Homo sapiens: one gene and its partners. The protein of the gene in region 6 purifies or fractionates together with the protein of the main gene of each other region. This does not show direct contact. Each region holds a gene or a part of one and is shown on either strand. Other genes may lie near its edges.

Region 1 (3,160 bases), on a different chromosome or scaffold from region 6:
GGGAGTTTCTTGCTCTGTCACCTAGGCAGGAGTGCAGTGACGCAATCTCGGCTCACTGCAGCTCTGCCTCCCAGGTTCCAGCAATTCTCCTGCCTCAGCCTCCCGAGTAGCTGGGATTACAGGCGCACACCACCATGCCTGGCTAATTTTTGTATTTTCAGTAGAGACAGGGTTTCACCATGCTGGCCAGGCTGGTCTCGAACTCCTCACCTCAAGTGATCCACCCGCCTCGGCCTCCCAAAGTGTTGGCATTACAGGCGTAAGCCACCACGCCCAGCCCCAAATTCTTCAACATGGAGATTCTTTGAGATCCTTTGTGGTGTCCTCACTTTCTACCCCTGCCTCTTCCACTCAGATACTTAGGAGGGTCCTGTCATTGGCCATCTCCTTTTTCTCTCTTCAGACTCTATACACAAGGGATCCCATCTTCTCATAGTTTAAACTGCCACATATGTACTGATTTCTAAATCTGTGCCCTGGGCCCATCCTAACCTCTCTGCTATAGGTCTCAGATATGTATATCCAAATGTTTTCTAGACTAAGCACATTAATTTCTCAAAGGTATCTGACACTCAAATGTATCTAAAACTGAAGTCATTATCCTTTCTCTACCTGCTTTTCTCAACCTGCTTTTCTCCCTATATATCCTATCTCAATTTACAGCACTCCCATCTGTCGTGCCAGGCCTCAGGAATCATCCTCAACCCTTTCTCTGCCACCCTCAGCATCCACTTATAAAAGGCCTCTGCCTCACCTTACAGTGCCAATCAATCATTAAGTCTGGTTAATTCTACCTCCTGAAATATTCCTTCTATCTCCCCATCTCCTGCCCAACTTTAAGCCCTCATCAACTACTGGCTGAATTAATACAACAGCCTCCAAACTCACTTCCCCACCTCTAGTCTTTCCGTCCTAAAATTCAGCCTTCATACATCAACAAGTAACCTACGTCATATGAAGATCTGACCATGCCACCCCAGTGCTTTAAACTCCTCAGGGCTCCCCACTGTATACCTAATGAAGTCCAAGTTCCTCACCATGAGAACCCTCCAAAACTTCATTCCTATCTCACTTCTCTGGCTTCATTTCTCAACTCTCCCTATAACCTTGTACTATAAACTCTAGAACTACATACGTTACCAGTCTCTGGCAATCACCATCCTATTTTACACTGCTGTTTTTACTCCTGCTGTTCCTTCTGCCTGCAAAACTCATTTCATCTTGATTCATCATACTTTTACTCCTTCTTTAAATATAGTTGAGGCATGGTTTACTTTACAAAGCCATTCCTGAACCACCAACATGCTGGGTTAAGTGTATACCACTCCTGACCTATGTTCACCAGCCTTAACATTCAACCACATTAAACAGATTATTCATTAATAGATCTGCTCACCTTTAGTTTTATGCCCTCCGCTCACAAGACAATGTATGCCATAATAAAGGGGATTCCAAACGTTGAACTGAAATAACCCATTCTTCAAAATGATTCATCACTAATCTTCAAATTATAAAGGTACAATGATCAAAGACCCACTCTACTCAATAAGTGTTATCAACTTCATACTTAAGTGAGTTGCTACTGGAGCATTAGGTAAGCCACAATTTGACTTTAAAGGACTTTCCTGAAAAAGACCACTTTGACTTACCTTACATTTAAGGGTGCAAAAAGGAGCCAAATCTAAGATTTCCGGAAACTTTATGTGTTTGTTAACTTTGCGTAGGTTAAAACCAGCCTAAAAGAGAAGCATAACAGATTGACTTCTTTTCTTGGAAAAGCAATACAGGTTAAGTAAACCGAAGTCCCCTCCGACGTCCAAAAGAATATCAACATTAAGTCCTAGTTCAATTTTCTTTGGAGACTCAATTCTTCCTGAACACTAACTGATTCCAAGTTGGTTTGCTTTTGCTAAGTACACATGTATCACACAAAAAACACACACCAACACATTAAGAAAGCTATTCCCAGCTGGACACGATGGCACATGCCTGTAATCTCAGCACTTTGGGAAGCTGAGGCAGGAGGATCACTTGAGCCCAGGAGTTCGAGATCAGCCTGGGCAACACTGTGAGACTCTGTCTCTACAAAAAAATTAAAAAATTAGCTGGACATGGTGGTAGCCACCTATAGTCCCAGCTACTATAGAGGCTAAGGTGGGAGGATCGCTTGAGACTGGGAGGTCAAACCTTCAGTGAGCCATGATCGTGTCATTGCACACCAGCCTGGGTGACAGAACAAGACTGTTTCAAAAAGAAGAAAAACAACTTTTCTCGTGAGAAAATTCTCAATGTTTCTGCTTCAGCCATCCAGAAATGCCAGATTAGACCACAGGTTCTGAGTGCTTAAAACTCAGCGATAGCATAATACTTTTCTGTGAAACACACGCTCTCAGCCTCATGCTCAAACCAAGCTTAGTGAATTGTTAATAAAGGCCCACCCAATTAGTCAAGCCCATACCAACCACAAGAGGCAAAACGTTCTGAAGATACTGAAAGTACTTTCGGAATTTGCAACACAGTTTAGAAGTTATACAGCTATAGCAAAAGTTTTCCAGAAAAGATGAGGTCACCAAAATGATGACAATCCAAGGCACCAATGTCTTTTTATCAAGGGTCCGTAAAAACAAGATGCCACACACAAAACAGAAAAAATCACTAATATTCCTAAGCATGAGATATATGTAACACACCAGTCTTTTTCTTTTTTTAACCTGAAATAAAAGTAAGATGCCAATCGTACTAAAAAGAGGGACATAAATGAGTTCTAGGAAATCTGAGGAGATTGTGCCTCCATCTTCACATGCGCCTCTGCCTAGCCCCTATGTTTTTCCCTTTCTGACTTCATTGACATTACAGTTAAGAAACAACAGAAAACCAAAGAAACAAAGTAGTATGTTGAGACAGTAATGAAAAAAATAGGTAATAAAGTAGGTGTTACATATTTAAAACAAATTTTGGGTAACAAGGAGTACCTGCTGAAATCTCTTTAAATGAAGAGTAAGAACAGGAGGAGCAAGAGAAATTAGCATCTGCTTTTTGGCATTGGTGTAAACATGCTTCCTTTCACCTAAAGAAAAGAAGAAATTTTTAACAGGGAGAAAATCATTTTAGACCCCTAAAGCATTCAGATTTGCTATAAAATCATTCCAAACATCTAAAG
Region 2 (3,500 bases), on a different chromosome or scaffold from region 6:
ATCCAAATAAAAATCCCACCCCAAATATGACAAACGCAAGCATCCTTTCTGGCCATAATTTAACTGCATTTGCAAATCATGAAAAAAACACTACTTCTGCAGTATTAAAATAATAGATTTTGAAATTAATTCCAATTTCAAAGATAATTAATTATCAGGGCGAGTGCTTTTTTCCTGATTCATTAAACAATTATGTATTCAGCATGATTGTAAGAGGTGCATATAATATTCCCCATTATCTTTTCTAATGAAGTGGGCACCTTCTGAATGGATATATAAGTAACTAGAAATGAAAAGCTGAGGATTTGGTCAGAATTTCAGGATAAAACTGAAAGAAATGGCAGTAGTTTATCAATTAATCTCATGTATTTAGTTTATACCAGGTGAGTAAGCTGAGCCTGCAATAAACACTCTCTGTCCCAGTGTAACACGTCGCAGGTAGCTAGAATGATAGGATAAATTAATAGACCTTGTGGTGTTTGTCTATGCACGTTAAAATTCTCTGAGAGAAAGTATATTTTAAAATGATAATTAAGATTGGACATTTGTGCTATTAAAATCTACAACTTTAGTCAAAATTCACAATGGTTTTTTTTTACAATAATGTGACTTACAGATTTGTAGTAAATTATTCTATTCTAAAAGAGAAATGAGTGTTTTTATTGTTACAGCTATTACCTCATTAATATTTTTAGCAAACTTTTATTTGTTGCATTGAAAGCAGTTTTAATTACTTTGGGTTTTTATTTTTCAAATTACTAATGGATAGATGGTGGAATAAGCATTTAATCATTTGGCACAATATGACTTCCATCAAATAGCTCATTCTCAGTGATTAAAAAATGCTACAAGAGGCTACAATTTACTCAGATTCAGGAAATGTCCTTTCAGAGTGCCATAAGGCTGATTCATATAATAAAATAGTTTTCTTCCCTATAATTTAAGATCAAATAGTTACTTAGTTCTGTGAATACCTAGCAGTAGCTATCAAACAGAATTTTAAAGTTAAATCTGTACAACTAACAATGAAGTGGAGGATGAATCGATACATATTGAATGGAAGACTTTGTCATTGATAAATTCAGGCCATCTTTAGGAAAATTCCGGATTTATCAATCACCATTATTTTTTACTTCAACTGAGTGTGACTGATCACATGCTCAGGCTACCTTGGTAGCTCATTGCTCACAGGAGGCTGAAAAAAGCTGGCCTCCGAGCAGGAGGAAGCTCAGAGCACAAACCTAGGCCTGGGCGTGGCCACTGGGAGCTGCTGATAGCGAACCCCAGCTCACACCAGTTTCTTTTTTGGTCGTGGGAAGAAAAACACATATTATCCTGTTGTCACAAGATCTGTGACCTTATATGAAAAAATGCTAGAATTTTTTCATTAAAAAAGAAAATACTGAACTAGCCAGTGACCCAGATGTTTTCAGAACCTAGACTGGTTCTGTCCATTGGAAAACCTCGGTGTCTGCATTAACTTTTCACCACACTAGAGGGCAATCATGTTCTCTAAAAAAGCAGATGATTGATGTAAACCTAGTTCCAAATATTAACTGTTTAATAAAATCTTTTCTTTTACCAGGAACATTCAAGTGTTTATTCAATAAGCTGATGCCATGCTTTACCCTAGTGGATGAACAGAGCTTGTACAATTTTCAAGGAGACAGGATGAAATGAGTGGTCATAATCTGAAAGTAGATACACGCCCTGGTTAATTATTCCCTGATGGTTTTACTTCTCAGTTTTATTACATTGTTATTATAATACCATTTATGTTACTTCTGAGATTTTGTAGTGGATAAATAGTAGAAAAATGTCAGTAGTAATAGCAAAGTTATTTAGCAGCCGAATATTTTAATGCTTAAAAATAAAGGAATAAATTAAAGAAAATCATTGTTTACTTCTTCATCGATTGAAATGTGCCCCCTGTTCAGAGCACATCTGAATATCAGAGTCTCCACCTGCAGAGAACATGCAGCTTAGCGAGTAAAACAGGCAGGTATGTGATACTGAGGAGGTGTACCAAAAACTGACTGCTGTTATTTTTCCCATCTTCTAAGTCTGTCTTTCTTTTCCATTTAAAGATACCTTTTTAAATCTAATCCAATGTGATTTCAATCTAGTTTTATCAGATTTCAACAATTATTGAGCATCTCCTTGTAGTGGTTTTCTGTTTATTAGAAAATCGATGTTAATTTTAACGAAGTAAGAAGAAATATATAAGTATAAACTAATTTTGGGTATCATCAAAAGTGGATTTTTTAAATATGCATTGATAGAATTATTTTTTGATTACATTTTATGTAATTCTAATCCAGCTATAAAATATTTAATAGTGTCATATTACTGTGTTCCTCAAACTTTGATGTGCATATGAATTACCTTTGATTTTCATTAAAATGCAAATTCTGATTCAATACATCTGGCTTGAGGCAGACATTCTGTCTTCCGAACAAGCTCCCAGATGATGCTGATTCTGACCACTAAACACATCAGTTTTAGGGATATTAACTTGTAATATACAGGTATCCCTCCTGGTAAGCTCTGGTATTATGTCTTAACATTTTTAAATCTATGGTAATCTTTACAAAATATTTTACTTCCGAACTCATATACCTGGGGATTTTATTACTCTGGGAATTATGTGTTCTGCCCCATCACTCTCTCTTAATTGGATTTTTAAAATTATATTCATATTGCAGGACTCGGCAGAAGACCTTCGAGAGAAAGGTAGAAAATAAGAATTTGGCTCTCTGTGTGAGCATGTGTGCGTGTGTGCGAGAGAGAGAGACAGACAGCCTGCCTAAGAAGAAATGAATGTGAATGCGGCTTGTGGCACAGTTGACAAGGATGATAAATCAATAATGCAAGCTTACTATCATTTATGAATAGCAATACTGAAGAAATTAAAACAAAAGATTGCTGTCTCAATATATCTTATATTTATTATTTACCAAATTATTCTAAGAGTATTTCTTCCTGAATACCATGTGAGAAAATTCTTAAGAATTTATTGAGTATGACTGTATATTTGAAAAGAGTGTTTTCTTCTGCTTATCTAAGCCAATAAAGGATCTTCATTATTCAATTCTAACTTTCTAAGGAAGTCAACCTACAGATCAGAAAGAGGATCTTCAAGGAATAGCATCAAAGACATAGTCAGGTCTCCCATGCAGTGACTGGCTGACCATGCAGCCATTACCACCTTTCTGGAAATATTATGCTGCAAAAATGATACAATACACGAAATATCTCAAATTAAAAAATATAACATTTCCCAAATAGGGCACTAAAAACATGATCCCAAATAAAACTAGCTTCAGGGTTTGCAGAATATACTGTTACTCAACACAAAGTTGGACTAAGTCTCAAAGTTAGCCATTCAGTTGTTGTTAACAGTTCATTTCAGGGTCTCTCAGAAGCTGGGAAACTTTCCATTTTTGCAATTTCTTGTACATTGAAGGAAAGGAAGACACACTTAAGACAGCATTACAAAA
Region 3 (3,227 bases), on a different chromosome or scaffold from region 6:
GTAATCCCAGCACTTTGGGAGGCTGAGGCGGGCGGATCACAAGGTCAAGAGATCGAGACCATCCTGACCAACATGGTGAAACCCCGTCTCTACTAAAAATACAAAAATTACCTGGGCATGGTGGCGCATGCCTGTAGTCCCAACTACTCGGGAGGCTGAGGCAGGAGAATCACTTGAACCTGGGAGGCAGAGGTTGCAGCGAGCCAAGATTGTGCCACTGCACTCCAGCCTGCCAACAGAATGAGATTCTGTCTAAAAAAAAAAAGAAAGAAAGAAAGAAAGAAAAAGAATTCCTGTTGCAAAAACTGAACAAAATCCCACAGGGACATGTGCAGTAATACCAGCTACCACGTGTTGACAGCTTATATGCCAGGCGCTGTGCTTAACACCTTATGTATGTTATCTCACTTAATCCTCCCAACATCTCTTTGAGGTAGATACTATTATTATCCCCATTTTACAGATGAGGAATCTGATGCTCAGAGGGTTATGTAGTTTGTTCAAGTTCCCAAAGCAGGTGAGTGCCATGGCTAGGAGAGAACCACATATTTCTGACTCTTGCTCTTTTATTTTATGTTATATTATGTTATTTTATGTTTTGGTTTTTTTTTCTTTTCTTTCTTTCTTTCTTTCTTTCTTTCTTTCTTTCTTTCTTTCTTTCTCTTTCTTTCTTTCTTTCTTTCTTTCTTTCTTTCTTTCTTTCTTTCTTTCTTTCTTTCTTTCTCTTTCTCTTTCTCTCTTTTTCTTTCTTTTGTGTGAGACAGAATCTTTAAAGAGAAGAAAGAAATGCTCATGTGACCAGAGGGTGTGTTAGCTAAAGGGAGCAAGACAGTCACACCCAGCAGGTTACCTTCCTTTGGGCGTCACCTCTGCCACACCTCCTTAGGGAGAGGGTGTAGCATAGTAGTTAAGAGGGGCTCCAGGGCCAGAATGCCTGGGTTTAAATCCTAGCTCTGCCTCTTACCAGCTATGTAGACCTGGGCAAGTCATTCGACGTTTTTGGACTTCCATTTCTTCATCTGTAAGATGGAATTATTATAATCCCTACTTCCATAGCCTGGTAAAGAGCAAATAAATATATGGAAAGGCTTGAAATAGTGGCTGGCACGTGTAAGCATTAGGATTGGTCGTTGTCATTGATGGAGTCTCAGGTTCGGTCTGATCCTCAGCCCTGTGATTCTGTCGTGAGGGCACTCACAGCTCACTGCCTGCCCTAAACAGGCTCCAGCTCTGGCCCTCCCTCGGCTCACACCTTTCCCCCTCTCCCCCTAGGAGATCCTGCTGGGCCGTGGCTTCACCTTTTGGCAGTGGTTTGATGGTGTCCTGGACCTCACCAAACGCTGTCTCCGGAGCTACTGGTCTGACCGGTGAGTCCCCACCCTGGGTAGTCTGAGCAGCCATACACCAGTCACCTCCATACTCACTGCCCATGCCCCATCCTCTCCTTCATCCCGGCCAGGCTGATCATTGGCTTCATCAGCAAACAGTACGTTACTAGCCTTCTTCTCAATGAGCCCGACGGAACCTTTCTCCTCCGCTTCAGCGACTCAGAGATTGGGGGCATCACCATTGCCCATGTCATCCGGGGCCAGGATGGTGAGGCCACCCCAGCCAGTCCTCTGTCTCTGTGCCTGTGCCCTCTGGGGTTTCTTCTGGGAATGAAATGTCCTGACCTTCCTGATGCCGATCCTGATCTTCAGGAAGTTCTTCCAGCTTCTCTTCTTCCTTCTGTGGTCTAAATGTTCACCTTCTCACTGTGAGCTCTGTGGGAACGGAGACTAGTGGGTCTCTCTCCCTCAGGAGCCCCACCCTAGGTCCTCTCTCCCTTGCCTTGGTGGAGTGAGAACAGGTCTTATGGTAGGGGTTGGGGAAGGGGAAGAAAGTCCGGACAGAGGGATCTCAGGGTCTCCTTCCTACCATAGGCTCTCCACAGATAGAGAACATCCAGCCATTCTCTGCCAAAGACCTGTCCATTCGCTCACTGGGGGACCGAATCCGGGATCTTGCTCAGCTCAAAAATCTCTATCCCAAGAAGCCCAAGGATGAGGCTTTCCGGAGCCACTACAAGCGTGAGCTGGAACTGGCAGCTCTGATTCCTTCCTGTCACCCACTTCCTCCCTGCTCCCCGCTGCCCTCCTCTCCCTGCCCGCGTGTCATCCTGATGTCACTCCCTATTTCATAGCTGTGCTTCTCTTACTTCCCCATGATCCATGCCCACCTTTTCCACCTCCCTTCCTCCCTAACCCCAGAGCACTCCATGGCTGTCTTTTCCTTCTCACAACAGCTGAACAGATGGGTAAGGATGGCAGGGGTTATGTCCCAGCTACCATCAAGATGACCGTGGAAAGGTGAGTGTGGTGGTATGGACAGTGGGTAGGTCAGGGGCTTAGTGCTTATCTGCAGGAAGGAGGGGTGGCATCAACCCTTGGTCAGTCACATGTACCTCCTTCCCTCCTCCAGGGACCAACCACTTCCTACCCCAGAGCTCCAGATGCCTACCATGGTGCCTTCTTATGACCTTGGAATGGCCCCTGATTCCTCCATGAGCATGCAGCTTGGCCCAGATATGGTGTAAGGAGCTGGAAAGACAGGAATGGGAGTGGTCTGTGCAGATGGGCTAATCTTAGCATGGGCAGCTGGGAGAGCTGGCACTGGGGGCTGAACAGGGAATCTTCCTTTCCATGAGAGGGACACCTGTTCAAAAGCAGGGTGTGGTGGTGTCCAGGAGAAGGGCTGGCATCAGGGGGTCTGTTTTCTTTCCCCAGGCCCCAGGTGTACCCACCACACTCTCACTCCATCCCCCCGTATCAAGGCCTCTCCCCAGAAGAATCAGTCAACGTGTTGTCAGCCTTCCAGGAGTAAGTGAAAAACCTCATGGGGATACCATCCCACTCTAAGGGGGTGGGCATTTGAATTGTTAGAAGAGGCTCTTCTGTGAGAAAGGAGCAGCAAATGCTAACAGCCTGTCTTCTTCTCTTCTGTCCACTCTAATGAGGGGGTAGTAGTTAAGATCTGGACTGCCTAGGTTTGAATTCTAGCTCCACCACTTACTGGTTTGGGGCAAATTACTTAGCCTTTGGTGCCTTATCTGCACAATGGGGGATAATAATGCTAATAATAATAACCTACCTCACTGCATTATTGTGGAGATTAAATGAGTTCATAACACTTAAAAAGCTGAGCATAGTGCATGGCTCATAGCAAAAGCTGTGTAAGTCCAGTCGTGG
Region 4 (3,500 bases), on a different chromosome or scaffold from region 6:
TATTTACTCGCATGATCATGTGACTGATTGGGAGCTGTGGCTGGCTGCCGCTGCAGAGGATTGTTGAGAGAGTATCTTATTACATATTGCGAGCCTGGGAAAAGATCAAAATCCAGAATTTGAAGTATGGTTTGTATTGAATGCATGTCGCTTTCACACCATTGTAAAGTCGAAAAACTATCTCAAACCATCCTAAATTGGGGACCATCTGTATGTCGCTTAAAATGTTTCTTAGCTGTCTGTAAGTTCCCTTGCAGATGCAGCAGTCTTTTAAGCACAGCATATGGTTTTTGCAATTATAAAAATAGCATATGCTCCTTATAATACATTTTTAAAATACAGCAAAAGTTAAAGAAGATTAACCAAGTATCCCATATTTTGGTGCATAGCTGAACTTTCTGTAAATATATACCTTTATAAATATAGTTTGTTTAAATTGAATCATACTATGCATACTATTTTATGCCTTGATTTTTTTTCCATTGGTAATATATCTTCTCATGTCAGTATATAGTAAGCTATGTGATTTAAAAGTTGCATAGTATTTCATTGAATAAACATGCTATAATTTATTAAACTAAAAATATTGGTGGACATTTAGGTTATTTGCAACTTTTTGCTGTTGTAAAGAATACTTCAGGCCAGGTGTGGTGGCTCACGCCTGTAATCTCAGCACCTTGGGAGGCCAAAGCAGGTGGATCACTTAAGGCCAGGAGTTCGAAACCAGCCTGGCCAATGTGGTGAAACCCTGTCTCTACTAAAAATACAAAAATTAGCCGGGTGTGGTGACATGTGCCTGTAGCCCCAGCTACTCAGGAGGCTGAAGCACAAGAATTGTTTGAACCCAGGAGGCGAAGTTTGCAGTGAGCCCAGATCGCGCCACTGCACTCCAGCCTGGCCGAAAGAGTGAGACTCTATCTCAGAACAAAAACAAAAACAAAAACGAAACAAAACAAAAAACCACTTCAGTGAATATATTTCAGAGTATTTTAAAAAATAATTTCTAAAAATGGTTTTACTGAATCGAAAGCCTTTCCTTTTTTTTTTTTTTTGAAGACTTTTGATACTTATTACTAAATTTGTGTCCCCCAGGAGTCTTTTAAAATATTACCTGAATTTTTCTTTTGAAAATGGGTACAAAAGTGACCCATGTTTAAAAATTAAAGTGTCTGTGTGACTAACAAGCATATAAAAAATGCTTAACATCACTAATCATTAGAGAAATGAAAATCAAAACCACAATGAGATACCATCTCATGTCAGTCAGAATAGCTGTTACTAAAAAGTCAAAAAATAGCAGATGTTGGCAAGGTTTCAGAGAAATGGGACGCTTAAACACTGCTGGTGGGAATGTAAGTTAGTTCAGCCATTATGGAAGGCAGTGTGGCGATTTCTCAAAGAACTTAACACAGAAATACCATTCAACCCAACAGTCCCATTATTGGATATATGCCCAAAGGAATATAAATCATTCTACCATAAAGACACGTGCACACATATTCATCGCAGCACTATATGCAACAGCAAAGTCATGGAGTCAACCTCAATGCCCATCCGTGGTAGACTGGATAAAGAAAATCTGGTACATATTACACCATGGAATACGGTGTAGCCATAAAAAGGAATGAGATAATGTCCTTTGTAGCAACATGAATGGAACTGGAGGCCATAATCCTAAGTGAACTAACATGGGAATAGAAAACCAAATGTTCTCACTTCTAAGTGGGAGCTAAGCATTGATTACACACGGACACAAAGAAGGGAACAACAGACACTGGGGCTTACTTGATGATGGAGGGTGGGAGGAGAGAGAGGATCGAAAAAGTATCTATCAGGTACTATTCTTTTTACCTTGGTGATGAAACAACCTGTACACCAAGCCCCTGTGACACACAATTTACCTATATAACAACCATGCACATGTACCCCGAACCTAAAATAAAACTTAAAAAAAATTAAAGTGTCTGGTACGTAACTCCCCAGTAAATTTATTTTAAATCAGCTCTTTAGCTGATTTATGATTGTGTGTTAATTGTATCTAGCATTTGCATGGTTGTTAAGATGGATTGGAATCTGTTTGCTATGAAGTACAGTCAAAGGGAAATATTTATTTTTTCCCTTTCTTTTCTTTGACAAAGGAAAAACTGTCAGCCATAAAAGTCTTTTTTTTTTAAATAACTTATAGGTCAAAGAATTAGAAGAGCAACTAGAAAATGAAACACTCCACAAAGAAATACACAACCTCAAACAGCAACTGGAGCTTCTAGAGGAAGATAAAAAGGAATTGGAATTGAAATATCAGAATTCTGAAGAGAAAGCCAGAAATTTAAAGCACTCTGGTAAAAGCATTGAGTAGGCTACTATGTCTTACTATTAATCTTTGAATTACTCATGCCTAGTACAAAACCTGGCATATAGTTAGTCTAGAACATTTACTGAATGCTGTGGAAAAATACCAAGATTTGTTTTGAAATTCCTTAATTTCTAACCATTGCAATTCAGTAGAATAGCTGCTGTATTAAATAATTCAAAAATATTTAGACTAATTTTTTGGACTTAGAGCCCTTGTGAACATCATATACAGAATTTAGACACAGAGATACCGTTAGCCTAGGAAGACCAACTTTTCAGCATTTTTCAGAGCTTCAGAGATGAATGTTCATTATGTACTTTATTTTGTTCACTTAGAGTGCATTTTTAGAAAGAATTAAACTTTTTAAAAATACTGTCTTCATCTTTGGTGTTCATACTACCTTCATCTTTGGTGTCTAATAATACACATGAAATAATACTTTCTATATTGTACCTAACAATGAACTGGGCAACAATATATCTATTAAATGGAAAATCTTTAGAAACACCAGGGGATACTTAAATCAAAAGATTTATTCATTCAGTTCTAGAAGGCTTAACGGGAATGTGCGAGTTAGATTACTATACGGGCATATGTGTAAGTCTCTGTTGGAAGGTCGGTAATTTAAGAAGTCAGGTACATTCCCTTTATAATAGCTTCAATATTCACTTCAGATATTTTTGGTTAATTTTATACTAGAATTTTGAAACCTATGCAGAAGAACCATGTAGGCCTTTTTTCCTTCTAAAAGCATTCAGTGCTTTCTAATCCACAATGAAAATTGATTATAATTTATTTTTTAATTGATCCAAAATTAAGAAGTATTTCATTCTTTTTAGTGAATATCAGAGTAGCCTGTAGCCAAAGCCATCTTTATTATGAATAGAGGAGGCAGACACTGGAAATATATAAGGTTCAAATCTGAATGCCTTCTATTAATACTTATTATCTGCTGTGTGTGTACCCAGCCCTATCCTAGGAAACAATAAGAAATACAGAAGAAAAGAAACCATGCTTTTTGTCTTCAGAGAACTCAGATTCCCCTTGGAGGGATAGGTGCATGCACATAAAAAGACTAGAGGATTCTCAGTTTTGGAGAGCATAGCCCACACTGCCTATTTAAGTGTTGAGGGTAAATACAAATGGA
Region 5 (3,500 bases), on a different chromosome or scaffold from region 6:
GAACATGAGTGGTTGGAGCTTGATAAAACTTGTTGAAGTAGATTATATGTGTTTCTTGTGATCTCATTTGCAGTAATTACCTATAAAGTCTGCCCTTTTCCCGCCTGTACCTTGTACAAAGATGAGCATCAGTTCAACGTTGATTTAGAAATTCAGAGTTGGCCGGGCAACTCTGAATACAGCTCACGCCTGTATTCCCAACACTTTGGGAGGCCGAGGTGGGCGGATCACAAGGTCAGGAGCTCGAGACCAGCCTGGCCAATATGGTGAAACCCCATCTCTACTAAAAATTCACCAATTAGCCGGGTGTGGTGGTGTAGGCATCTGTAGTCCCAGCTACTTGGGAGGCTGAGGCAGGAGAATTGCTTGAACCCTGGTAGGCGGAGGTTGCAGTGAGCCGAGATCATGCCACTGCACTCCAGCCTCGGCCACAGAACAAGACTCCATCTCAAAAAAAAAAAAAAAAAAAACAAAGTTACAGTCCTCCCAAAATGTGCTCAGAATTCATCTTTAAATACGACACCCTGTAACAGTTTAGCCAGCTGAGAGAAGCAATAAAATTGTGCATATTTTTGGGTGGTGTGTTTCCAGGTCATGCTGAAAAATACGTAATTAGTATTAAAGCAACCTCACAAAACAGTCAGACGTGGTGGTGCGCCCCTGTAATCCCGCCTCGGCAGGAGGCTGAGGCAGGAGGATTGTTTGAGGCCAGGAGTTCGAGACCAGCGTGGGCAACATAGTAAGACTGCTTTTTTTATTATTATTATTTTTTTATTTTTTATTTGGAGACAGAATCTCGCTGTGTCACCCAGGCTGGAGTGCAGTGGCACGGTTTCGGCTCACTACAACCTCTGCCTCCCTGGGTTCAGCAATTCTCCTGCCTCAGCCTCCCAAGTGGCTGGGATTACAGGCACACGTCACCATGCCCAGCTAATTTTTGTATTTTTAGTAGAAACGGGGTTTCACCATATTGGCCAGGCTGGTCTGAACTCCTTACCGTGTGATCTACCCGCTTCCGTCTCCCAAAATGCTAGGATTACAGGCGTGAGCCACCGCGCCTGGCCAAGACTGCTGTCTTGAAAAAACAAACCAAAAACACTGTTTCTTGTGAAATTAACAAACAGTGATCACACTTAGAGAAGGCTACCTGGGCAAACGAGTGTAATAAATTTTTTTTTTTTTTTTTGACACGGAGTCTAACTCTCACCCAGGCTGGAATGCAGTGTCGGCTAGCTGCAACCTCCACCTCCCGGATTCAAGTGATTCTTCTGCCTCAGCCTCCTGAGTAACTGAGACTACAGGCACCCGCCTCCTTGCCTGGCTAATTTTTGTATTTTTAGTAGAGGTGGGATTTTGCCATGTTGGCCAGGCTTGTCTCAAACTCCTGACCTCAGGGGATCTGCCTGCCTGTACCTCCCAAAGTGCTGCAATTACAGGAGTGAGCCAGCATGCCTGGCCTAAAAATTTTGTTTAAAAAATTTTTAGTTGATAAATAATAATTTTACATATTCATGGTGTACATAGTGATGTTTCAATACATAAAACGTATAGTGATCAGTTGAAGTTAATTAGTATATCCATCTCAAACATTTAGCATTTGCTTTGGGAACATTCAGTATCCTCCTAGCTATTTGAAACTGTATCATATATTATTGTTTTTTTGAGATAGGGTTTCTTTCCCATTGCCCAGGCTGGAGTGCAGTGGTATGCTCTTGGGTCACTACAGCCTCCGCTTCCTGGGCTTAAGCAATCCTCCTGCCACATCCTCCCAAGTAGCTGGGACTACAGGCATGTGCCACCAAGCCCGGCTAATTTTTGTATTTTTAGTAGAGATGGGGTTTCACCACGTTGGCCAGGCTGGTCTTGAACTCTTGAACTCAAGTGATCTGCCCGCCTTGGCCTCCCAAAGTGCTGGGATTATAGGCATGAGCCACCATGCCCGGCTTGTATCATATATTATTGTTAACCGTAGTCATTCTGTAGTAGTACTTATTCCTTCTATCTCACTGTAATTTTATATTCTTTAACAAATCTCTCCCTATCCCTCCCCTCCCTCTACCATTCCCAGCAAATTTTGTTGTGTTTTTGTTTATTTTATTTTATTTTTTTTTGAGACAGAGTCTTGTTCTGTCACCCAGGCTGGAGTGCAGTGGCGCCATCTCTGCTCACTGCAAGCTCCGCCTCCCGGGTTCACGCCATTCTCCTGACTCAGCTTCCCGAGGAGCTGGAACTACAGGCGCCCGCTACCACGCCCGGCTAATTTTTTGTATATTTAGTAGAGATGGGGTTTCACCATGTTGGCCAGGATGGTCTCGATCTCTTGACCTCGTGATCCACCTGCCTCGGCCTCCCAAAGTGCTGGCATTACAGGCGTGAGCCACCGTGCCTAGCCGTGTTTTTGTTTATTAATAGAGACAGGGCCTTGCATTGTTGCCCAGGCTGGTCTCAAACTCCTGGTCTGAAGCCATTCTCCTGCCTCAGCCTCCCCAAGTACTGGAATTACAGGCATGAGCTACCATGCCTGGCCAGTTAATTGTGTTTTAAATGAAAGGGTAGACACAAGTGTGGGTAGTATAGCTTTGTATTAGATATGCACAGACTTTTTGATAAGAGTAAGGACTTAATGTGGAATGTTTAAAGTTTGGCAGAATGCAGTATCGTTAAAAGTAACAGATTATGAACAGTTCGTTTTGTCATCAGTTTTTGGTGAGAGTATTAATATTATTAGTTATACCTCTAGTCCTGAGAATCTGAAGCTGTAAACTTTCACTGTGGAAACATGCAGAGGCATACAGACACAGAATTGTGCTTACAGGTTGAGGACCCGTTGAAGTTTGTTCCTGGAACCAGACTAAGGATCCTATCATAAGTACCCTTGCCCCACCACACCCACCCTTTTTAAATATAATCTTGACACATATCATAAAAGTTGAAACTACATTTCAAAATCATATTTGGCTTTAGTGTTAGAATAACCAATCCCAACAATACTAAAATACTGGACTTGCCATTTTCTTTTCATGCTTCATTTTAAAAACATTTAAAAAGCTTGGATGTATTGAGTAAATTTTGCTGTTATCATTTTGTGGGATTACATTCTGTTTAGGATAAATTTTAAATTTCTGTTCCTCTGCTTGTTCTGTTGAGTTTGTCTGATAACTGCTTTTGTAGTTACTTTTGTGAACCAGTTTACAAAGGCCAAAGCATTTCTAGATCTTGGTGAGGAGTTGGAGGCTTAAAATTACATGCTTTAGGCCATCACCATAGCAAACTCACTAGTAAACTGAGGTTATTTACCTCGTAAGGTAAATTTCTCTGAAAGCAGAGTGAAAATTACATAGTACCTCTTTTTTTTTTTTTTTTTTTTTTTGAGACGGAGTCTCGCTCTTTCGCCCAGGCTGGAGTGCAGTGGTGCGATCTTGGGCTCACTGCAACCTCCGCCTCCTGGGACTACAGGCGTGAGCCACCACGCCTGGTGTACGTCATTGTTTTAAACCACT
Region 6 (3,500 bases):
TACTCGGGAGGCTGAGGCAGGAGAATGGCGTGAACCCGGGAGGCAGAGCTTGCAGTGAGCCAAGATCACGCCACTGCACTCCAGCCTGGGCGACAGAGAGAGACTCCGTCTCAAAAAAATAAATAAATAATAAATAAATAAAATAAATAAATGTGGCCAGGTGTGGTGGCTCACGCCTGTAATCCTCGCACTTTGGGAGGCTGAGGTGGGCGGATTACCTGAGGTCGGGAGTTCAAGACCAGCCTGGCCAATATGGTGAAACCCCATCTCTACTAAAAATACAAAAAGTTAGCTGGGTGCAGTGGCACGTGCCTGTAATCCCATAATCCCAGCTACTCTGGAGGCTGAGGCAGGAAAATTGCTTGAACCAGGGAGGCAGAGGTTGCAGTGAGCTGAGATTGTGCCACTGCTTTCCAGCCTGGGTGACAGAGCAAGACCCCATCTCAAAAAAAAAAAAAAAAAAGAGAAAAAAGAATGAAAAAAAAAACTACTAATGAGTGTTATAGCTTACTTAATTTGTCTAGCAGGCTTTCTGGTTTTTGCTGGAAAGCCGAAAAACAAAAAACAACAAAAAACTACTAATAATTTTAAAAGTCACATTTTCCATATGGTTTTCAGGTTTCAAGTATTATTTCAAACATCTAAATAAGCAAAAGTTTCACATTTCTACATTTTAAGCACTTCTATAAGAATACTACCTGACTTTATGAAGCTATTTTGAAGTGAAGGATATCCAGAAGAAACATATTGATGATTTGTGGTTAAACTTGTATTTCCAGATACAGTTGGTTGGGATGATGCACGAGGACAATGGTTTGTTTGTGAGGCTGTGGATGGATAGTTATATTGCCAATTCAAAGGTGGTGGCAGGTTGGCTTCAGGAAGAAAGCTACTAGAAGGCATTGGTGTAGTAGCTGGGTTCTGAGAAGCAGGTAATGGCATTCGGGGAGCAGGACCACTATGAAGCGAAGGTGTCACTGGATTAGAGGCCACAGGTGGTCTATTAAGAGTCTGCCCAGATCCCTGAGAACCACCATAGTTAGACTGTCCAGAGACTGGATTCAAAGTCTTTGCTGGTATTGGATGAGGGTAGGATCCTGGAAGCTGGAAATTGTATCCTTGGCTCACTGACTCTTGTGAAGACAGCAATGCATTTTGGACAGGACCTTCCAATAAAAGGAGGAAAAATTAGTCTTACCAACGAATATAGCAATACTTTAAGAAATAAAGTAAAACATATATTCTTACAGTCAGCAATAAAAACACATAACTCAATTAAAAAATAAGCAAAGGACTTAAATAGACATTCAAACATACTTCCAAAGAAGATAGCTAATAAGCACATGCCAAAACATTCAACATCATCAGTCATTAGAGAAATACAAACATAATTAGTCATAACAGAAATGTAAATCAAAACCACAATGAAGGCCAGCGCAGTGGCTCACATCTGTAATCCCAGCACTTTGGGAGGCCAAGGCAGGTGGATAGCTTGAGCCCAGGAGTTCAAGACCAGCCTGGGCAACATGGTGAAACCCCATGCCTATAAAAAAAAACAAAAAGTAGCCAGCCTTGATGGTATGCGCCTGTAGTCTTAGCTACTTGGGGGGCTGAGGCAGGAGGATTACTTGAACCCAGGAGGTCAAGGCTGCAGTGAGCCAAGGTCACACCATTGCACTCCAGCCTGGGTGACAAAAAAAAAAAAAAAAGATGGACTAAACAGTAGCAAGTAACAGAGGGAATACAGAGATGTCTCAATAAATGAAAACATTTGTAAAAAAATAATATATAAGCATATGTTGGGTCACTTGGATAAAAATAGGCCATCTCACAGCCCAATGTTGCCACAAGATGTCCTGGCCTAGTTTCATATTTGTATTACAATTTTATTTACTTACTTATGGATTGATTGATTGATTGAGACAGCACTTTACTCTGTCATCCAAGCTGGAGTACAGTGGCACAATCATGGCTCACTGTAGCTCTGACCTCCTGGGCTCAAGCGATCCTCCCATCTAAGCCTCCTGAGAAGCTGGGACTACAGGCATGCACCACCACGCCGGCCTAATTTTTTTTTTTTTTTTTTGTAGAGACAGAGACTCACTATGTTGCCCAGGCTGGTCTCAAATTCCTGAGCTCAAGTAATCCTCCTGCCTCAGCCTCTATAAGCGCTAGGATTACAGGCGTGAGCAAACAGGTTGTATTTACAATCTTATCACAAGCTAATACGCTAAAGAGGTGCCTTCAAGCCAGGTACAGCCAAGTGAAAGCCAAATACCATCAAAATGTACAAAATAAGCAAAAATTTGACAGGCCAATAAAGATGAAAACATGCTGGGCATGGTGCCTCACACATATAATCCCAACACTTTGGGAGGCCAAGGCGGGCAGATAGCTTGAGCTCAGGAGTTCGAGACCAGCCTGGACATAATAGTAAGACCTCGTCTCTATAAAAAATATAAGAATTAGTTGGGTGTGGTGGCGCCTGCCTGTAAGTCCCAGCTACTTGGGGCTGAGGCAGGAGGATCACTGAGCACAGGAGGTTAAGGCTGCAGGGAGCTGCGTTCACGCCACTGCACTCCAGCCTCTGTGACAAAGTGAGACCCTGTATCCTGTCTCAAAAAAAAAAAAAAAAAAAAGAATATGAGGTCATAAGGCCAACTGGCAGGAAGACAGATACAAAAGAACTTGTTTTGTGGTAGTCACCATCATAGACCTATTGTGAGTAACTATTACATGAAAATTTTTTTTTCTGACATCCCTCCCCACTATGTGAAAATCATATATGGATCAATTACAAGTAGTTCACAAAAAGTGTAGTAATAAATATATAATGACACCTTCACTAAATGGATAATTTTTTTAAATTCTGAAGTCATTACTAAGTAGCCCATCAAAATAATGGGTCTGTGAGGCCAGGCGCGGTGGCTCACGCCTATAATCCCAGCACTTTGGGAGGCCAAGGCGGGCGGATCACGAGGTCAGGAGATCAAGACCATCCTGGCTAACATGGTGAAACCCCATCTCTACTAAAAATACAAAAAAATTAGTGGAGCGTGGTGGCGGGTGCCTGTAGTCCCAGCTACTCGGGAGGCTGAGGCAGGAGAATGGCGTGAACCCAGGAGGCAGAGCTTGCAGTGAGCCAACATCGCGCCACTGCACTCCAGCCTGGGTGACAGAGCAAGATTCCATCTCAATAAATAAATAAATAAATAAATAAATAAATAAATAAATAAAAATAAATGGGTCAGTGATTGTGAAGGGGTCCAGAATACGCTACTATGGCATAAAAATTATTTTAAGCAGAAGGCATTTGAGTTCCTAAAATCTCTTATCTGCCTAAAACAGAGCCTTCCAAAAGAACTCAATTGTCATAATCTACTTCCCAGGGGCAACCAGGAAAGATGTCAATCTGACTCATGACCTGAGATGAGAAATTTCCACACCACACCTAAACAGATATCATCACAAAACTATCATATCTATTCTAAAAGCCCATT
Region 7 (3,500 bases), on a different chromosome or scaffold from region 6:
TCCTCCCTCCCCTCTAGTGGGAGGTCTTCCCTGTTTCCTAAATGCTGAGGATCCGCAGGGCTCTCCAGTCTATTCCCTTTACATACTCCCTTCCCTTCCCACCCCATTCACCCCTAGATATTAAAATACCAACTAAACGCTAAGGACTCCCAAAACGCTACCTTCAGTTCAGATCTCGGTGGTGCTTCAGGCCCAGGAGATAGCCATGTAAGTTTCAGTCAGGCAGCCCTTCAATATTGAAAGGTACTTTCAGACTGTACTTCAAACTTAAAAACCAAAAAACCGTTCAACAACCTGCTCCTTATCCTAAGTTATACAGATCTCTGAATAGTAGAAATAAGCTATGTGATAATATTTATAGGCCATTATTTCTTTCTTTCTGTTTTAAGCACCAACATATGTATTTACTGATTTTGGAAAAACTGTCATATACTTCAGAATAATGTATTTGGATCATTTCTAAACAAGAGAATATGAACCAAAGGGAACCCAGGGAAGAAAGTAAATCTGTAACCTTAAACTAGCATGATATTCTTTTCAGGATATTCTCTTTTTCCTAATAAAAATTAGCCAAAAATTAATATTGTTTTTCTTTGAGATGGAGTCTTACTCTGTCACCCAGGCTGGAGTGCAGTGGCTTGATCTCAGCTCACTGCAGCCTCTGCCTCCCGGGTTCAAGCTATTCTCCTGCCTCAGGCTCCCAAGTAGCTGGGATTACAGGCCCACGCCACCATGTTTGGCTAATTTTTGTATTTTTAGTAAAGACAGGGTTTCACTATGTTGGCCAGGCTGGTTTCAAACTCCTGGCCTCAAGCGATCCACATGCCTTGGCCTCTCAAAGTGGTGGGATTACAGGCATGAGCCACTGCGCCCGGCCTACTATTCTCTTTGATCTGAAGATGAACTGAGAGCTGAAAAGCACTGTTTAGATCTGAAATAAGAATCTGAAAGCTCTTAAAAAAAAAAAGGCATTATTTGTCACAGAAGCCATCAGAACAACTACAAAGACCAGGTTTCTTAGGAGAAATAGCTCTAAAAACATGGTTTTGCCAAGCAGGTAGCATCAGTCTTTTTTGTTTGAGACAGTCTTGCTCTGTTCCCCAGGACGGCAAGATCATGGTTCACTGCAGCATCAAACTCTGGGGCTCAAGGGATCCTCCTATCTCAGCCTCCTAAGCAGCTGGGACTACAGGTGCGCACCACCACACCTGGCTAATTTTTAAATTTTGTTGTAGAGATGGGCTCTTGCTATGTTGACCAGGCTGATCTTGAACTCCTGGCCTTGTCAAGCAATCCTCTTGCCCTGGCCTCCCAAAGTGTTGGGATTACAGGCATGGGCCACCAAGCCCAGCCAAGCATCAGTCTTAAAAAAAAAGTGGCCAGTGAAAACAATTGAGGGTATTAAAAAAAAAAGAGAGAGAGAGAAAACAGAAAGCAGGTTAGGGAGACTAAAAACATACTTTCATAAGGAAGTGAAGGAGGTCAGTGGAAGACCAAGGAGGACTCTCAGGGAGCAGCCAGAAAGCTGGGCAGCCTGGGCCCAAGGGAGGCAGGTGGAGACTTCATTCAGAAAAAGAGAGCACCTTTCCCCCAGATTTGAAAGTAACAGATCACTGCAGGAAATATGCAGAAAGAGCAAAATGAAGCCCCCCTTCCTCCAACGTGGAGCTAACCACTGCTGACATTCGGATTTATGTGGAGAAAAGCAGTTTTTAAGAGGAACTCTCGGAATAAGTCTGAGTATCTTGGGTTCATGTTCATATCAATTCTAAAAACTTCATTCATTAGAGTTTGCCCCTGCTTTCACACCATAAATCTCCATACATATAAGCCCCCCCTTTAAAAAAAATTCTTCCTTCAATGTCTTATTAAAATTAACTTAAAAAAAAAACTCAAGCAGCTCGAGCTGCTTTTTTTTTTTTTTTAAGTTAATTTTAATAAGTACAGTAGTGCATGTTTTCTGCAGTAGAAGAAAGAAAGAAGCAGTCTATTTCTAGTGGCTGGGGGTAGGGAGGTGCTGGGGAAGAGCAGGAACCTAGGAAGAGTCAGCAGAGGGTAGCCACGCCCCAGCCCCATGGACGAGACTCCTGAGGAATCCATAAAACTGCGAAGTACTAAGTTCTGGCAACAGATCTCAAACCTGCTCCTTAGCAAGAGAGCTAAAAAGAGAGTGTTTCTTATGTACTCTGTTAATTTGACTCTTAAGGCATATAAACAATAGGGAGACCCTGTCTCTACAAAAATAAAAAACTTAGCCAGATGTGGTGGCATATGCCTATGGTCCCAGCTACTTGGGAGGCTGAGGTGGGAGGATTGCTTGAACCCAGGAGGTCGAGGCTGCAGTGAGTCATGATCATGCCCACTCCAGTCTGGGCAACAGAGAGAGACTCTCAAAAAAAAAAAAAAAAAAAAAAAAAAAAAAAAAAAAAAAAGATAAACAAGAGCTGAAGGATAAGCTTCCAAAATAAACGAGGAAAACAAGAAATCTGTGCTTTTCCTTATGTGATATTCCTGTGCTGCATTCCATGACACTAAGAATATAAAACATGATAACTTCTGTCCTTACGTGTTTACTTCTTAATCTTTTTCAAAGTACGCTATTAAAATGGCAACAGAGGAGTTTTTCTTTTTTCAAGGTATAAAACCAAGAATGTGAGGTGCAGGAGATAAGCATTCAATTTTTCAATGAATTTTTGGAGATGGAAAGCAAGCTTTAAATGCAGATCTGAAAATACGGATTGGCATAAAGTCTATTTAACTAATGCGCAAATTCTCTTCCTCACCTCCTATTTTCATCTATTTTCTCCACCCCCAAATCCAGAGGTTTAAAGAAAAATGAACCGAAATCTGAAATGGGTCTGGAGTAAAATACATCAGCAGGAGCAATGAAGAACTGAAAATACAGATTATGTCAAAAGATGCATACTAAAAGGTTCTCCAAGCCTCCATCCTTGTCCCAGCAACCAATGCACTGTCAGCTAAAGAAATATTAGCAAACATATACATTTGTACAAACATACACACAAAATCCATATATACCAGCCACCCTATAGTAATGGCCACCACCCAACAAGACCCACGCTGGGAACTTAAAATAACAAAAAACAAAACAGAAATGAACAGTCAGAATCATGAGACATTCAAAGAAATCCCACAATAAAATAATTCATTTATTCCTTAAGTTATTAAGCATCTATTCATCGCCAGGCACTGTTTCAGAGGCTGGAATTATAGAGGTAAACAAAAAAAAACCCAAAATCCCTGCCCTCATAGAATGTTTATTTTAGTGGTGAGGGAAACAAGTAAATAAATATGTGGGATGCTAGATGGTGGGAAATGCTTCTGGAGAGAAACAAAGCAGGGAAGTGAGATGGGGGTCTGCACTTCTCAATCCAGTGCTCTCTTCACTGAGGTGACATTTAAGGAAAGACTTGTGGATTCATCCAAAGTGAGGTGTGGGAGCAAGTCGCTGGATATCTGAGGGAAGACACATCCAGACA

The links.
Region 1: the proteins of SEC24A (region 6) and USP16 fractionate together in Homo sapiens (co-fractionation; one large-scale study listed by BioGRID). This does not show direct contact.
Region 2: the proteins of SEC24A (region 6) and STMN2 fractionate together in Homo sapiens (co-fractionation; one large-scale study listed by BioGRID). This does not show direct contact.
Region 3: the proteins of SEC24A (region 6) and STAT6 fractionate together in Homo sapiens (co-fractionation; one large-scale study listed by BioGRID). This does not show direct contact.
Region 4: the proteins of SEC24A (region 6) and SHTN1 fractionate together in Homo sapiens (co-fractionation; one large-scale study listed by BioGRID). This does not show direct contact.
Region 5: the proteins of SEC24A (region 6) and USP34 fractionate together in Homo sapiens (co-fractionation; one large-scale study listed by BioGRID). This does not show direct contact.
Region 7: the proteins of SEC24A (region 6) and FAM118B fractionate together in Homo sapiens (co-fractionation; one large-scale study listed by BioGRID). This does not show direct contact.

The regions. Positions count from the first base shown.
Region 1 is NC_000021.9:29,048,668-29,051,827, reverse strand, and holds part of USP16 (ubiquitin carboxyl-terminal hydrolase 16), read right to left. Parts: intron 3,068-3,160; coding exon 2,973-3,067; intron 1,737-2,972; coding exon 1,650-1,736; intron 1-1,649. UniProt on the Homo sapiens protein: Specifically deubiquitinates 'Lys-120' of histone H2A (H2AK119Ub), a specific tag for epigenetic transcriptional repression, thereby acting as a coactivator.
Region 2 is NC_000008.11:79,614,117-79,617,616, forward strand, and holds part of STMN2 (stathmin-2), read left to right. Parts: intron 1-3,500. UniProt on the Homo sapiens protein: Regulator of microtubule stability. When phosphorylated by MAPK8, stabilizes microtubules and consequently controls neurite length in cortical neurons.
Region 3 is NC_000012.12:57,098,136-57,101,362, reverse strand, and holds part of STAT6 (signal transducer and activator of transcription 6), read left to right. Parts: intron 1-463; coding exon of another isoform or gene 464-814; exon of another isoform or gene 815-1,272; coding exon 1,273-1,367; intron 1,368-1,459; coding exon 1,460-1,596; intron 1,597-1,922; coding exon 1,923-2,069; intron 2,070-2,284; coding exon 2,285-2,348; intron 2,349-2,460; coding exon 2,461-2,571; intron 2,572-2,765; coding exon 2,766-2,858; intron 2,859-3,227. UniProt on the Homo sapiens protein: Carries out a dual function: signal transduction and activation of transcription. Involved in IL4/interleukin-4- and IL3/interleukin-3-mediated signaling.
Region 4 is NC_000010.11:116,928,688-116,932,187, reverse strand, and holds part of SHTN1 (shootin-1), read left to right. Parts: intron 1-2,185; coding exon 2,186-2,339; intron 2,340-3,500. UniProt on the Homo sapiens protein: Involved in the generation of internal asymmetric signals required for neuronal polarization and neurite outgrowth.
Region 5 is NC_000002.12:61,464,588-61,468,087, reverse strand, and holds part of USP34 (ubiquitin carboxyl-terminal hydrolase 34), read left to right. Parts: intron 1-3,500. UniProt on the Homo sapiens protein: Ubiquitin hydrolase that can remove conjugated ubiquitin from AXIN1 and AXIN2, thereby acting as a regulator of Wnt signaling pathway.
Region 6 is NC_000005.10:134,658,785-134,662,284, reverse strand, and holds part of SEC24A (protein transport protein Sec24A), read right to left. Parts: intron 1,167-3,500; coding exon 699-1,166; intron 556-698; exon of another isoform or gene 496-555; intron 1-495. UniProt on the Homo sapiens protein: Component of the coat protein complex II (COPII) which promotes the formation of transport vesicles from the endoplasmic reticulum (ER).
Region 7 is NC_000011.10:126,218,282-126,221,781, reverse strand, and holds part of FAM118B (protein FAM118B), read right to left. Parts: intron 1-3,500. UniProt on the Homo sapiens protein: May play a role in Cajal bodies formation.